Homo sapiens: one gene and its partner. The protein of the gene in region 1 interacts with the protein of each later gene in a pairwise test. Each region holds a gene or a part of one and is shown in the gene's direction. Other genes may lie near its edges.

Region 1 (7,265 bases):
CAGCTTCACTGTGTATGAAAGGTGTTTTTTGGTTTTTGTTGCTGCTGCTTTTTTTTTTTTATTTTATTATTATTATTATTTTTGAGACAGAGTCTTGCTCTTATCACCCAGGCTGGAATGCAGTGGTGCAATCTAGCTCACTGCAACCTTCACCTTCCGGGTTCAAGCAATTCTCCTGTCTCAGCCTCCCAAGTAGCTGGGAATTACAGACATGCACCACCACACCTGGTTAATTTTTGTATCTTTAATAGAGATGGGGTTTTGCCATGTTGGCCAGGCTGGTCTTGAACTCCTGACCTCAAGTGATCTGCCCGCCTGGGCCTCCCAAAGTGCTGGGATTACAGGCATGAGCCACAACACCTGGCCCTGCTGCTTGGTTTTTTGTTTGTTTGTTTGTTTGTTTTTGAGATGGAGTCTCAAAAACAGCCTGTTGCCCAGGCTGGAGTGTAGTGGTGCGATCTCGGCTCACTGCAACCTCCGCCTCCGGGTTCAAGCAATTCTTCTGCCTCAGCCTCCCAAGTAGCTGAGACTACAGGCATGTGCCACCACACCCAGCTAATTTTTGTATTTTTAGTAGAGACGGGGTTTCACCGTGTTAGCCAGGGTGGTCTCAATCTCCTGACCTCGTGATCCGCCCACCTCGGCCTCCCACAGTGCTAGGATTACAGGCGTGAGCCACTGTGCCCGGCCCGGCTGCTTTTTTTTTAAGTCACAATCTTTAAACCTCAGTTTTCTCATTAATGGAGAAGGGTCAGGTGACCTCTGGGGGACCCAGGGAGTCCCTGATCCTCCCCCGCATGCTCTGGCCCTCAGTTCCTCATCCTCCCCATGGAACGGAAGATGAGTTTGCTGAAGCAGGATGATCAGCTGGCTGTGACCAGAAGTATCAAGGAGGGTGAGGTAAGGATGAGAGCCAGATGGGAGTTGCACTACACACTGTGAACCCAGAATATCTGAGACAGGTCCAGATCAATTTAGAGAGTTTATTTTGCCAAGGTTAAGGACGCGCACATGACACAGCCTCAGGAGGTCCTGAGGAAATGGGCCCAAAGTGGTTGGGGCACAGCTTGTTTTTTTTTTTTTTTTTTGAGACAGAGTTTCACATTTGTTGCAGAGGCTGGAGTGCAATGACGTGATCTCGGCTCACTGCAACCGCCACCTCCCGGGTTCAAGTGATTCTCCTGCCTCAGCCTCCCGAGTAGCTGGGATTATGGGCATGCACCACCACGCCCGGCTAATTCTGTATTTTTAGTAGAGAGGGAGTTTCATCCCTGTTGGCCAGGCTGGTCTCAAACTCCCGACCTCAGGTGATCCGCCCGCCTCAGCCTCCCAAAGTGCTGGGATTACAGGCGTGAGCCACCACGCCCAGCCTACAGCTTGGTTTTATACATTTTAAGGAGACACGAAACATCAATCAACACGTGTAAGATGTACACTGGTTCACCAGACGTAAAAATACAAAAAATTAGCCAGGCGTGGTGGCAGGCGCCTGTAGTCCCAGCTACTCGGGAGGGTGAGGCAGGAGAACGGCGTGAACCCGGGAAGTGGAGCTTGCACTAAGCTGAGATCACGCCACTGCACTCCAGCCTGGGCGACAGAGCAAGACTCCGTCTCAAAAAAAAAAAAAGATGTACATTGGTTCATTGGAAAAGGCAGGACAACTCGAGGCAGGGAGGGGGCTTCCAAGTCATAGGTAGATAAGAGACATGCTTTTAAGTTTCCGATTAGCCTTTCACTGAATACACAATTTACATGCTATGGGGGTTAGAAAAGTAGTCACTTATGCCTTACTCTGGCTTAGTGAAACAATAGAGCAGAGAAAGCCATCAGATATGCATTTATCTCACGTGAGCAGAGGGATGACTTTGAGTTCTGTCTGTCCTTTGTCCACAAGGAATTTCCTTGTGGGCAAATAGTGAGGGAGTTATATAGCTTTTTTTTCTCTTAGTAGCTACCTTGTTTAGGAATAAAATGGGAGGCAGCTTTGCCTGAGGCAGTTCCCAGCTTGACTTCCCTTTGGCTTAGTGATTTGGGGTCCCAAGATTTATTTTTCTTTCACAATGTCCTCTTCAGAACTCTGAGCGGGGACCAGATTAGATGAAGCCAGGAGTCCAGACTAACGATTCATTCATTAGGCTGGGCGCGGTGGCTCACGCCTGTAATCCCAGCTCTCAGAAGCAAGAGGCAGGAGGATAGCTTGAGCCTAGGAGTTCGAGACTTGCCTGGGCAATATAGCGAGACCCCGTTCTCCAGAAAAAGGAAAAAAAAAAAAGACAAGGATTCATTCATTAAAAACCATATGACCGGCTGAAGGCCAGGCGTGTGGTGACTCACGCCTGTAATTTCAGCACTTTGGGAGGCCAAGGCGGGCGGATCACTTGAGGTCAGGAGTGGAGACCAGCCTGGCCAATATGGTGAAATCCCCTCTAATAAAAATACAAAAATTAGCTGGGCGTAGTGTCGTGAGCCTGTAATCCCAGCTACTCAGGAGGCTGAGGCAGGAAAGTCGCTTGAACCTGGGAGCTGGAGGTTGCAGTGAGCTGAGATCGCACCACTGCACTCCAGTCTGGGCAACAGAGCAAGACCCTGTCTCAAAAAAAAAAAAAAAAAAGGCTCACGCCTGTAATCCCAACACTTTGGGAGGCAGAGGGGGCCTATCACCTCAGGTCAGGAGTTCAAGACTAGCCTGGCCAACATGGTGAAATCCGGTCTCTACTAAAATTACAAAATTTAGCCAGGCATGGTAGCCTGTAATCCCTGCTACTTGAAAGGCTGAGGCAGGAGATCGCTTGAACCAAGGAGGCGGAGGTTGCAGTGAGCTGAGACCACGCCATTGCACTCCAGCCTGGGTGACAAAAAGCGAAACTCTGTCTCAAAAAAAAACAAAACCGTATGCCCAACACCTGGCTTGCCCACCCTCCTGTCCCCTGCCCCTTCCTGGTTCCAGGACCCTGACCCAGATCAGTTCTGAACAGGAAGTGAAGACTGGAGTGACTTCTTTCCCCTGGAGCTCAATCAAGGGCTTCATCTCAGAGGCTGCCAACCTGGTGCTGCTCAGGGTGATGGCCTGGCGGCGGATGGTGCCCAGCAATGCCCGCTTCCTGACCTTGGACACCGAGGGCAAACTCTGCTATTTGACCTATGTAAGGGGTCCCCTTGGGCAGGGGACTTGGCTTGGGAGCGAACTAGAAAAGGCGTGAAAAGCACTGAGATGGGGAACAGCTGTGGAGTAGAAAAGGGAGGCAGGTGGGGAGAAAACAGCACAGGTGGGAATGGGGCTTTCAAGGGCAGGAAAGCATGTTTGTCTGGGAGTGTGGGGCAGATGAATTGAGAGTGACTGAGAAGTGGGAACAGTTCAGAGAAGCAACCCTTCCGCACAGAAGTCAGTCCAGGAAAAATAAATATAGTGCAGGGCTGATTTAAAAAATACATCATTTTGGGCCAGGTGTGGTGGCTCACGCCTGTAATCCCAGCACTTTGGGAGGCCAAGGCGGGCCGATCACAAGGTCAGGAGATCTAGACCATCCTGGCTAACATGGTGAAACCCCGCCTCTACTAAAAATACAAAAAAAAAAAATCAGCGGGGCGTGGTGGCAGGCGCCTGTAGTCCCAGCTACTCAGGACGCTGAGGCAGGAGAATGGCGTGAACCCGGGAGGCAGAGCTTGCAGTGAGCCGAGATCGCGCCACTGCACTCCCGCCTGGGTGACAGAGCGAGACTCTGTCTCAAAAAAAAAAAACAAAAAAAAAAAAACGTCATTTTGGCCAGGCGCAGTGATTCATGCCTGTAATCCCAGCACTTTGGGAGGCCAAGGTGGGCAGATCACTTGAAGTTAGGAGGTCAAGATCAGCCTGGCCAACATGGTGAAACCCTGTCTCTACTACAAATACAAAAATTATTAGCTGCGTGTGGTGGCAAGTGCCTGTAATCCCAGCTACTCGGGAGGCTGAGGCAGGAGAAGCATCACTTGAACCCAGGAGGCGGAGGTTGCAGTGAGCTGAGATCGCACAACTGCACTCCAGCCTGGGCAACAGAGGGAGACTCTGTCTCAAAAAAATAAATAAATAAAAATAAATCATTTTTTAACTTTAGGAAGTGTAACATGTCCAACTTTACTGAAATATTCCTTTATTATTTCTTAACCCCAAAGGGTGTTCCGTTTTTGTTTTGTTTTTTGTTTTTAACTAAAATTTCATAATCAGCATGCCTAGGACTTCCTGCAATCAGTGATTTTAAAGCCATGCCACTGAACACACAATTTCCAGTGAGACACTTTGGGGGCTGATTTGTGTTTCTTTGACCATCTTTGTAAATTACATTCCAGGCTTGTCTATCAAAACACACCAAGCAGCAATGCATTTGACATGAACAAGCACAATCCATTCCCCTCCGTGTTCTTTGAAACATGTGTTTAACATTAGCACTTTTTTCTCCATAGCTGCAGCTACAACAGGGGTTTAAGTTTTAATCACAACAGGGACAGCCTGCCAGCAACAGCACAGGTCTGAGGTGGCCACAAATCTGTCTGGTCTCACACCTCTGAGCCTCACTTTACCTCCACCCACTGGCCCTAGTAGCTCATCCTACCTCTCCGCTCCCACACCCCCCCGCATACCGCTTCTCATCCCTGTAACAGAATTTGCCAACTAGAAGCACCTGGTCAGCGAGATGACATGGGAGGGGTCAGGGCAAGGGCAACCTGGAGCTAGCTCCCTATGAGGGGTCGCCAACTCAGCTTGGAGGTTTGGAGATGCAATATTAAATGTCTTGAGGTTGTTATGAGATGGAGAAAAGGCTAAGGTAAGATGATGGGGAGCCCTTGGCGGGCATCCACCTTACCTCCCACCCCCCAATTTTGGCTGTTGCCAGCAAAACCTGGGCTTCCAGACCATCCAGGTAGACCATCAGCAGGCTGAAGTCTTCATCGTGGAGCAGACTGTCCACGCGGAGGAGGGCATCCCCATGTCCTGCCAGTACTACCTGCTCTCCGATGGGTGAGCTGCTGATGGTGGGCCCAGAGGGGTGGTGCTGAGCTTGTAGGTGCTCAAGGAGACCGGCTGCTTCTGGGGATAGCACCAGGAAGAACTGGCATTGAGATAGGAGTGTCCCTCCGCTTTATCCATATCATTCACTCTTTCTTCATTTATTTGCTCGTCCTCTTAACCCTCACAGTGCCTCCCAAACCTTCTCACTGCACACCACAGGCCTGGGGTGTAGCTAGTGCAGCCACCACTGTGTAAGGGATAATACTGAAAAACACCAAGGTCTGAATGACTGCACACTTGATGAAATCACTGTGCTGGAAGAATTGCCTGTGGCAGGCTGCCGTGCAGTCTCCAGCAAAGCACTGGCTCCAAATCATAAGAAAATTCAGGGCTGGGCGTGGTGGCTCACACCTGTAATCCCAGCACTTTGGGAGGCTGAGGCGGGCGGATCATGAGGTCAGGAAATTGAGACCATCCTGGCTGACACGGTGAAACCCCATCTCTACTAAAAATACAAAAAATTAGCCAAGTGTGGTCGTGGGCGCCTGTAGTCCCAGCTACTCTGGAGGCTGAGGCAGGAGGATGGCGTGAACCCAGGAGGCAGAGCTTGCAGTGAGCCGAGATCGCGCCACTGCACTCCAGCCTGGGTGACAGCAAGACTCCGTCTCAAAAAAAAAAAAGAAAGAAAAAGAAAATTCAGGTGGAAGAAAGAGTTTCTTTCTGTTTTTTTGTTTTGTTTTGTTTTTTTGAGACAGACTCCAGTCGAGTTTATTTCTTAAAATTTCAGAATAGATATTCACATAATCACTACACTGGGGAAAAGGTAATCAAAACATTGTTGGCTTTATCTCATAACTTAGTATGTTTTCGGTTTTGGTGCGATCATAGCCCACTGCAGCCTCCAACTCCTGGGCTCAAGCAATCCACCTGCTTCAGCCTTCCTAGTAGCTGGGACTACAGGTATGCACCACAGCTCCAGGCCAACCTTTTTATTTTGAATGCCGCATAGCAGGAGATTCCATAATTTTTCTTTTCTTTCTTTCTCCTTCCTTCCTTCCTCTTTCTCTCTTTCTCTCTCTCTGTCTCTTTCTTGACAGAGTCTCGCTCTGTCACCTAGACTGGAATGTGTGGCATAATCTTGGCTAACTGCAACCTCCGCCTCCCAGGTTCAAGTGATTCCCTTGCTTCAGCCTCCCAAGTAGCCGGGACTACAGGTGCCTGCCACCACGCCTGGCTAATTTTTGTATTTTTAGTAGAAACAGGCTTTCACCATGTTGGCCAGGCTGGTCTCAAACACCTGACCTGAAGTGATCTGCCCATCTTGGCCTCCTAAAGTGCTGGGATAACAGGCGTGAGCCACTACAAGTGTGAGCCACTGCGACAGGCCTCTTTCTCTTTTTGAGACAGTCTCGCTCTGTTACCCAGACTGGAGTACAGGGATGCAATCTTGGCTCACTACAACCTCCACCTCCCAGGTTCAAGTGATTCTCATGCCACAGCCACCAAAATAGCTGGGATTACAGGCGCCCACCACCACGTCTGGCTAGTTTTTTGTATTTTTAGTAGAGACGGCGTTTCACTATGTTGGCCAGGCTGGTCTCAAACTCCTGACCTCAAGTGATCCACCCATCTCAGCCTCCCAAAGTGCTAGGATTACAGGCGTGAGCCACCGTGCCTGGCCAAGAGGCTCCATGATTTTCGAGTGCTGTACCTCTAAAGATCCTTTTTGTTTTTTTTAAACAGGGGGCCTAATACTTGCCAAGCCCTGTGCGTTATTTGGAGATCCAGAAATGAACACCACCCAGGAACTTAATAAACAAGAGAGGGAGGCAGAAGTAAAGAGGCCCGGGACAGGTCTCTCAAGGGGCACTGTCATGTAGGAGTCTGCTTAGGCTGCCATAACAAAACACCACAGGCTGGGTGGCTTCAAGAGAAATATATTTGCTGGAAGGCAGGAAGTCCAAGATCATGGTGCCATCAGGGTTGGTTTCTGGTGAGGGCTGTCTTCCTAGCTTGCAGACAAGTGCCTTCTCAATGTGTCCTCACATGGCCTTTCTTCCGTGCATGAGTGAAGAGAAAGCTCTCTGGCATCACCCTTTTCTCATAAGGGCACTAATCCTATCTGATTCGGGCCCCACCCTTATGACTGCATGTAAACGTAATGACCTCCCCAAAGCCCCTACCTCCAAATACCACCACACTGGGGGTTAGAGAGACAATTCAGTCCATAGCAGGCGGTCTGGGAAGATTCTCACTCTCACATGTTGTGTTGCACTCCAGG
Region 2 (7,265 bases), on another chromosome or scaffold:
ACTTAACTTTCTTGATCACGTGTATCTCCTTGTGGATGTGCTAGGAAAAGTGTAATCACATAGCAGAACAGAATCTTCCAGAACTTTAATTTTTGAACCAATCCTAGTGGGGTTCTGTCCAGTGCCGGGATTTGGACCAGTCCTGGTGGGATTCTGTCCAGTGCCGGGATTTGACCCAGTCCTGGTGGGGTTCTGTCCAGTGCCGGGATTTGGACCAGTCCTGGTGGGGTTCTGTCCAGTGCCGGGATTTGGACCAGTCCTGGTGGGGTTCTGTCCAGTGCCGGGATTTGGCCCAGTCCTGGTGGGGTTCTGTCCAGTGCCGGGATTTGGCCCAGTCCTGGTGGGGTTCTGTCCAGTGCCGGGATTTGACCCAGTCCTGGTGGGGTTCTGTCCAGTGCCGGGATTTGGCCCAGTCCTGGTGGGGTTCTGTCCAGTGCCGGGATTTGACTCAGTCCTGGTGGGGTTCTGTCCAGTGCCGGGATTTGGCCCAGTCCTGGTGGGGTTCTGTCCAGTGCCGGGATTTGGCCCAGTCCTGGTGGGGTTCTGTCCAGCGCCGGGATTTGGCCCAGTCCTGGTGGGGTTCTGTCCAGCGCCGGGATTTGGCCCAGTCCTGGTGGGGTTCTGTCCAGTGTCGGGATTTGACCCAGTCCTGGTGGGGTGCTGTCCAGTGCCGGGATTTAGACCAGTCCTGGTGGGGTTCTGTCCAGTGCTGGGATTTGACCCAGTCCTGGTGGGGTTCTGTCCAGTGTCGGGATTTGACCCAGTCCTGGTGGGGTGCTGTCCAGTGCCGGGATTTAGACCAGTCCTGGTGGGGTTCTGTCCAGTGCTGGGATTTGACCCAGTCCTGGTGGGGTTCTGTCCAGTGCCGGGATTTGGCCCAGTCCTGGTGGGGTTCTGTCCAGCGCCGGGATTTGGCCCAGTCCTGGTGGGGTTCTGTCCAGCGCCGGGATTTGGCCCAGTCCTGGTGGGGTTCTGTCCAGCGCCGGGATTTGGCCCAGTCCTGGTGGGGTTCTGTCCAGTGCCGGGATTTGACCCAGTCCTGGTGGGGTTCTGTCCAGTGCCGGGATTTGGCCCAGTCCTGGTGGGGTTCTGTCCAGTGCCGGGATTTGACCCAAGTCCTGGTGGGGTTCTGTCCAGTGCCGGGATTTGACCCAGTCCTGGTGGGGTTCTGTCCAGTGCCGGGATTTGGCCCAGTCCTGGTGGGGTTCTGTCCAGTGCCGGGATTTGACCCAGTCCTGGTGGGGTTCTGTCCAGTGCCGGGATTTGGCCCAGTCCTGGTGGGGTTCTGTCCAGCGCCGGGATTTGGCCCAGTCCTGGTGGGGTTCTGTCCAGCGCCGGGATTTGGCCCAGTCCTGGTGGGGTTCTGTCCAGTGCCGGGATTTGACCCAGTCCTGGTGGGGTTCTGTCCAGTGCCGGGATTTGGCCCAGTCCTGGTGGGGTTCTGTCCAGTGCCGGGATTTAGACCAGTCCTGGTGGGGTTCTGTCCAGTGCCGGGATTTGACCCAGTCCTGGTGGGGTTCTATCCAGTGCCGGGATTTGGCCCAGTCCTGGTGGGGTTCTGTCCAGTGCCGGGATTTGACCCAGTCCTGGTGGGGTTCTGTCCAGTGCCGGGATTTAGACCAGTCCTGGTGGGGTTCTGTCCAGTGCCGGGATTTGGCCCAGTCCTGGTGGGGTTCTGTCCAGTGCCGGGATTTGACCCAGTCCTGGTGGGGTTCTGTCCAGTGCTGGATTTGACCCAGTCCTGGTGGGGTTCTGTCCAGCGCCGGGATTTGGCCCAGTCCTGGTGGGGTTCTGTCCAGCGCCGGGATTTGGCCCAGTCCTGGTGGGGTTCTGTCCAGCGCCGGGATTTGGCCCAGTCCTGGTGGGGTTCTGTCCAGTGCCGGGATTTGACCCAGTCCTGGTGGGGTTCTGTCCAGTGCCGGGATTTGGCCCAGTCCTGGTGGGGTTCTGTCCAGTGCCGGGATTTAGACCAGTCCTGGTGGGGTTCTGTCCAGTGCCGGGATTTGACCCAGTCCTGGTGGGGTTCTGTCCAGTGCCGGGATTTGGCCCAGTCCTGGTGGGGTTCTATCCAGTGCCGGGATTTGACCCAGTCCTGGTGGGGTTCTGTCCAGCGCCGGGATTTGGCCCAGTCCTGGTGGGGTTCTGTCCAGCGCCGGGATTTGGACCAGTCCTGGTGGGGTTCTGTCCAGCGCCGGGATTTGGACCAGTCCTGGTGGGGTTCTGTCCAGCGCCGGGATTTGGACCAGTCCTGGTGGGGTTCTGTCCAGTGCCGGGATTTGGACCAGTTCTGGTGGGGTTCTGTCCAGTGCCGGGATTTGGACCAGTCCTGGTGGGGTTCTGTCCAGTGCCGGGATTTGGCCCAGTCCTGGTGGGGTTCTGTCCAGTGCCGGGATTTAGACCAGTCCTGGTGGGGTTCTGTCCAGTGCTGGATTTGACCCAGTCCTGGTGGGGTGCTGTCCAGTGCCGGGATTTAGACCAGTCCTGGTGGGGTTCTGTCCAGTGCCGGGATTTGGCCCAGTCCTGGTGGGGTTCTGTCCAGTGCCGGGATTTAGACCAGTCCTGGTGGGGTTCTGTCCAGTGCTGGATTTGACCCAGTCCTGGTGGGGTTCTGTCCAGTGCCGGGATTTGGCCCAGTCCTGGTGGGGTTCTGTCCAGCGCCGGGATTTGGCCCAGTCCTGGTGGGGTTCTGTCCAGCGCCGGGATTTGGCCCAGTCCTGGTGGGGTTCTGTCCAGTGCTGGGATTTGACCCAGTCCTAGTGGGGTTCTGTCCAGTGCCGGGATTTGGCCCAGTCCTGGTGGGGTTCTGTCCAGTGCCGGGATTTAGACCAGTCCTGGTGGGGTTCTGTCCAGCGCCGGGATTTGGCCCAGTCCTGGTGGGGTTCTGTCCAGCGCCGGGATTTGGACCAGTCCTGGTGGGGTTCTGTCCAGTGTCGGGATTTGACCCAGTCCTGGTGGGGTGCTGTCCAGTGCCGGGATTTAGACCAGTCCTGGTGGGGTTCTGTCCAGTGCTGGGATTTGACCCAGTCCTGGTGGGGTTCTGTCCAGTGTCGGGATTTGACCCAGTCCTGGTGGGGTGCTGTCCAGTGCCGGGATTTAGACCAGTCCTGGTGGGGTTCTGTCCAGTGCTGGGATTTGACCCAGTCCTGGTGGGGTTCTGTCCAGTGCCGGGATTTGGCCCAGTCCTGGTGGGGTTCTGTCCAGCGCCGGGATTTGGCCCAGTCCTGGTGGGGTTCTGTCCAGCGCCGGGATTTGGCCCAGTCCTGGTGGGGTTCTGTCCAGTGCCGGGATTTGACCCAGTCCTGGTGGGGTTCTGTCCAGTGCCGGGATTTGGCCCAGTCCTGGTGGGGTTCTGTCCAGTGCCGGGATTTAGACCAGTCCTGGTGGGGTTCTGTCCAGTGCCGGGATTTGACCCAGTCCTGGTGGGGTTCTATCCAGTGCCGGGATTTGGCCCAGTCCTGGTGGGGTTCTATCCAGTGCCGGGATTTGACCCAGTCCTGGTGGGGTTCTGTCCAGCGCCGGGATTTGGCCCAGTCCTGGTGGGGTTCTGTCCAGCGCCGGGATTTGGACCAGTCCTGGTGGGGTTCTGTCCAGTGCCGGGATTTGGACCAGTTCTGGTGGGGTTCTGTCCAGTGCCGGGATTTGGACCAGTTCTGGTGGGGTTCTGTCCAGTGCCGGGATTTAGACCAGTCCTGGTGGGGTTCTGTCCAGTGCCGGGATTTGGCCCAGTCCTGGTGGGGTTCTGTCCAGTGCCGGGATTTAGACCAGTCCTGGTGGGGTTCTGTCCAGTGCCGGGATTTGACCCAGTCCTGGTGGGGTGCTGTCCAGTGCCGGGATTTAGACCAGTCCTGGTGGGGTTCTGTCCAGTGCCGGGATTTGGCCCAGTCCTGGTGGGGTTCTGTCCAGTGCCGGGATTTAGACCAGTCCTGGTGGGGTTCTGTCCAGTGCTGGATTTGACCCAGTCCTGGTGGGGTGCTGTCCAGTTCCGGGATTTAGACCAGTCCTGGTGGGGTTCTGTTCAGTGCCGGGATTTGGCCCAGTCCTGGTGGGGTTCTGTCCAGTGCCAGGATTTAGTCCCGTCCTGGTGGGGTTCTGTCCAGTGCTGGATTTGACCCAGTCCTGGTGGGGTGCTGTCCAGTGCCGGGATTTAGACCAGTCCTGGTGGGGTTCTGTTCAGTGCCGGGGTTTGGCCCAGTCCTGGTGGGGTTCTGTCCAGTGCTGGGATTTGGCCCAGTCCTGGTGGGGTTCTGTCCAGTGCCGGGATGCTGTCATGTTATCACGTAACCTGGCTGTTGCTCACCGATTGTCCTTGGTGAGTCACTCTTTAGCATCACTGCAGTGGAAGCAACAGGACCCGGCTGCCCCACGTTTGCAGCACGCTGCTTCTCTCAGAGACCGTGCAGGAATTTTCCTTCTCCTGGTCTGCGTGGGCCGGAGCATATGGCTGGCTTGAGTGATGCTGATGAGTTTGCTTTTCCTTACAGACCACACCACCCCAGAGCCAAGTGCACCGAGGCCTTGGCCAAGCAGAGCCTGGTCATGGATGCGGATGACGAGGCAGTCCTGAACCTCATTGCAGAGTGCGAGTGGGACCTCGGCAGGCCTCCCGGGAGCACGAGCTTCAGCCAGAAGGGGCGTGAGGCCGACTCTCGTGGTTCCCAAGGTGCGCTGCTCATCTGCCAGGAGGCCAGTGGGTCCGCTGGCTCTGGGATATATATAGTCGTTACTGGGCTTGGAGTCCACAGTTGCTCTTTTTGTGGAACTTACCTTGAAGGATAGGATCTTCATGATGTGTCTTTGTGTGCTTTCGAATGCCAGCCATTTGGACTACAGAGTTATAAATGAGAAAGTTAACATATTTGAGTATAGTCATACTGCATGATGGTTTAAATTGTATCCTTCTGAGATCACAGGAAAAGGCAAACTGTCTAAAACAGACAAGAAGCCTAGTGTCCTGTGGCAAGTGGGGCTGACATCTGCGGCAGCTGCAGGGGGGCATAGTCACCGAACTTGCAGGAAACCCTGAGCTCAGGCCGCCACGTGCAGACCTGTAGATCCCAGCAAGGGTGTCTCGGAGACTCCGTTGCCCGGTGGCACTGCCCTCCACTGGGATGTGCTGATGGGCTTTAGCTTCATTTATTCCACCTCCGCTGTGAGTTTCTGAGAACTTTTCGTGGAAACAACAGGTGGAGACCTGAGTTTGGGCTGAAATCTTAGGTTCATCTGTGCAAAGATGTCTGCCCTGTGGCAGCGGTGCTCGAGCCATGTCCTTGCCGGCACTGGGAGCTGAGTCCTTTAATCCTAGCTGCTCTGTCAGGGGGTTGTGGTCTGTGTTTATGGCTTTAATTTGCATCCGCTGCTGTTGAGATACTGGCCGTGCCTGTCTCTTCTTTTCTCTCCAGGTCTGCCCACCTTTGTTCTGGGGTTGCTTCTCTTAGTATTGAGTCCTAAGAGATCTTGGTGGTTTTGACACAGGCCCTTTCTCAGGCACAAGGGCTGCCCATTTCCTCCCTTCTGTGGCTGGCCTTTTCATTATCTGAACAGTGCTTTGAAGAGCACAAGTTTTAATTTCATTACAGTCCAGTTTATGAAGGGCACAGTTTATTTTGTTTTTTGTTTTGTTTATTTTGAGATGGAGTTTTGCTCTGCCGCCCAGGCTGGAGTGCAGTGGCGCAATCTTGGCTTGCTGCAGCCTTTGCCTCCCGGGTTCAAGTGATTCTCCTGCCTCAGCCTCCCAAGTAGCTGGGACTACAGGCGCCCACCACCACACCCAGCTAATTTTGTATTGAGACTGTCTGGACTCTCTCTTCTGTTTTGTGCATCATTTTGTCTGACTTTGCTCCACTTCATGCGGCTGGATTCTTGCAGCCTTGTCCTGAGTCTCGCAGGCGAGTGGCGCCAGTTCCCAGTTCCAAGCTCTCTTGCTGTTAGAAGTCACTGTGGATTCATTTCAGTGTCACCCAGCACGTGATTAACCCCTCGGTCTAACAGATACCATACACTATTCAGAAGCTTAAAATGTAATTTTTGATGGAATAAAACTTTTACAATGTTTTATGAAATATTTTATTTACAATATTTTAATAGAATCCAGACATCTGTTGAGCCCGCAGTTGGTACAGTACCAGTGTGGGGACTCTGGGAAGCAGGGCCGTGAGACGAGGAGGAGCAGCTGCAGAGGGTGCTGTCTGGAGAAGATGCCTTGGAGCCAGCTCTGTGGAGAGCTTCCGCCACTGTACGGAGCGGAGCCAGAGGCCTCCCGTGCCCCCAGGCCACACACGTACTTCACCCCACACCCAGGTACTTACGCGTGTCTTAGTCTGTTTTCTGTTGCTGTAACAGAAAACCACAGACTGAGTAATTTATAAAGAACAGAAGCTTATGTGGCTCATGGTTCTGGAGGCTGGGAAGTCCAAGAGCACGGTGCCGGCACCTGGTGCTGGTCCTCCCATGGCACAGGCAGAAGCATGGTGCAGGCAGAAGCAAGCTCAAGACAGAGAAATGGAGCTAGACTCATCCTTTATCGGGAACCCAGCCCTGCGCTACAGCATTCCTGCCTCCCTGCGGGCTGGCCCTGTGACCTGTTCCAGACTCATCCTTTATCAGGAACCCAGCCCTGCGATACAGCATTCCCGCCTCCCTGAGGGTTGGCCCTGTGACCTGTTCCAGACTCATCCTTTATCAGGAACCCAGCCCTGTGCTACAGCATTCCTGCCTCCCTGAGGGCTGGCCCTGTGACCTGTTCACCTCTTAAAGGCCCTCCGCTTAATACTGTTAGAGTGGCAATAAGTTTCCAGCTTAGGAACTTTGGGGGGTTCCTTCGAACTACAGCAACATGAAATCCCTGTCAACTTTTACTCCCTTCAGTTCCTTTTTAAGTAGTTAAATATTTTTCACATCGTTTGCTTTTACTATGAAATTTCTCCTGTTCTCTGTGTATTTATTTGTTTGTGGAACTCTCCAAAATGTCTTTGGAAAGAATGCAGCACATTGAAATTTATAATCCATTCATGGTTTAGATTCATGGTTGGTAAATAAGTGCTTTTTCTCTGCACGTGTGTGTGTGCACACCCTCCCTCACCCTCTCACTAATGCACACACACTTTTAAGTGTATGGGCCCAGGTTATGGCAATAGCTACATTTTGAAAATCAAAGGCGAGAAAAGTTAACCAAGAGTGTCACGTGATACCATGTGATGGCCACCTATGTGGCATAAGTATCAGAAAACCTCCTGCCGTGAGCAGGCCAGACACGGTGGCTCACGCCT

The links.
Region 2: the proteins of CATIP (region 1) and CEP72 interact in binary tests that used the Homo sapiens proteins (3 or more experiments, as listed by UniProt).

Annotation. Positions count from the first base shown.
Region 1 is NC_000002.12:218,359,760-218,367,024, forward strand, and holds part of CATIP (ciliogenesis-associated TTC17-interacting protein), read left to right. Parts: intron 1-813; coding exon 814-900; intron 901-2,975; coding exon 2,976-3,143; intron 3,144-4,868; coding exon 4,869-4,993; intron 4,994-6,905; exon of another isoform or gene 6,906-7,039; intron 7,040-7,167; exon of another isoform or gene 7,168-7,264; coding exon 7,265-7,265. UniProt on the Homo sapiens protein: Plays a role in primary ciliogenesis by modulating actin polymerization.
Region 2 is NC_000005.10:629,288-636,552, forward strand, and holds part of CEP72 (centrosomal protein of 72 kDa), read left to right. Parts: intron 1-4,481; coding exon 4,482-4,660; intron 4,661-6,084; coding exon 6,085-6,297; intron 6,298-7,265. UniProt on the Homo sapiens protein: Involved in the recruitment of key centrosomal proteins to the centrosome.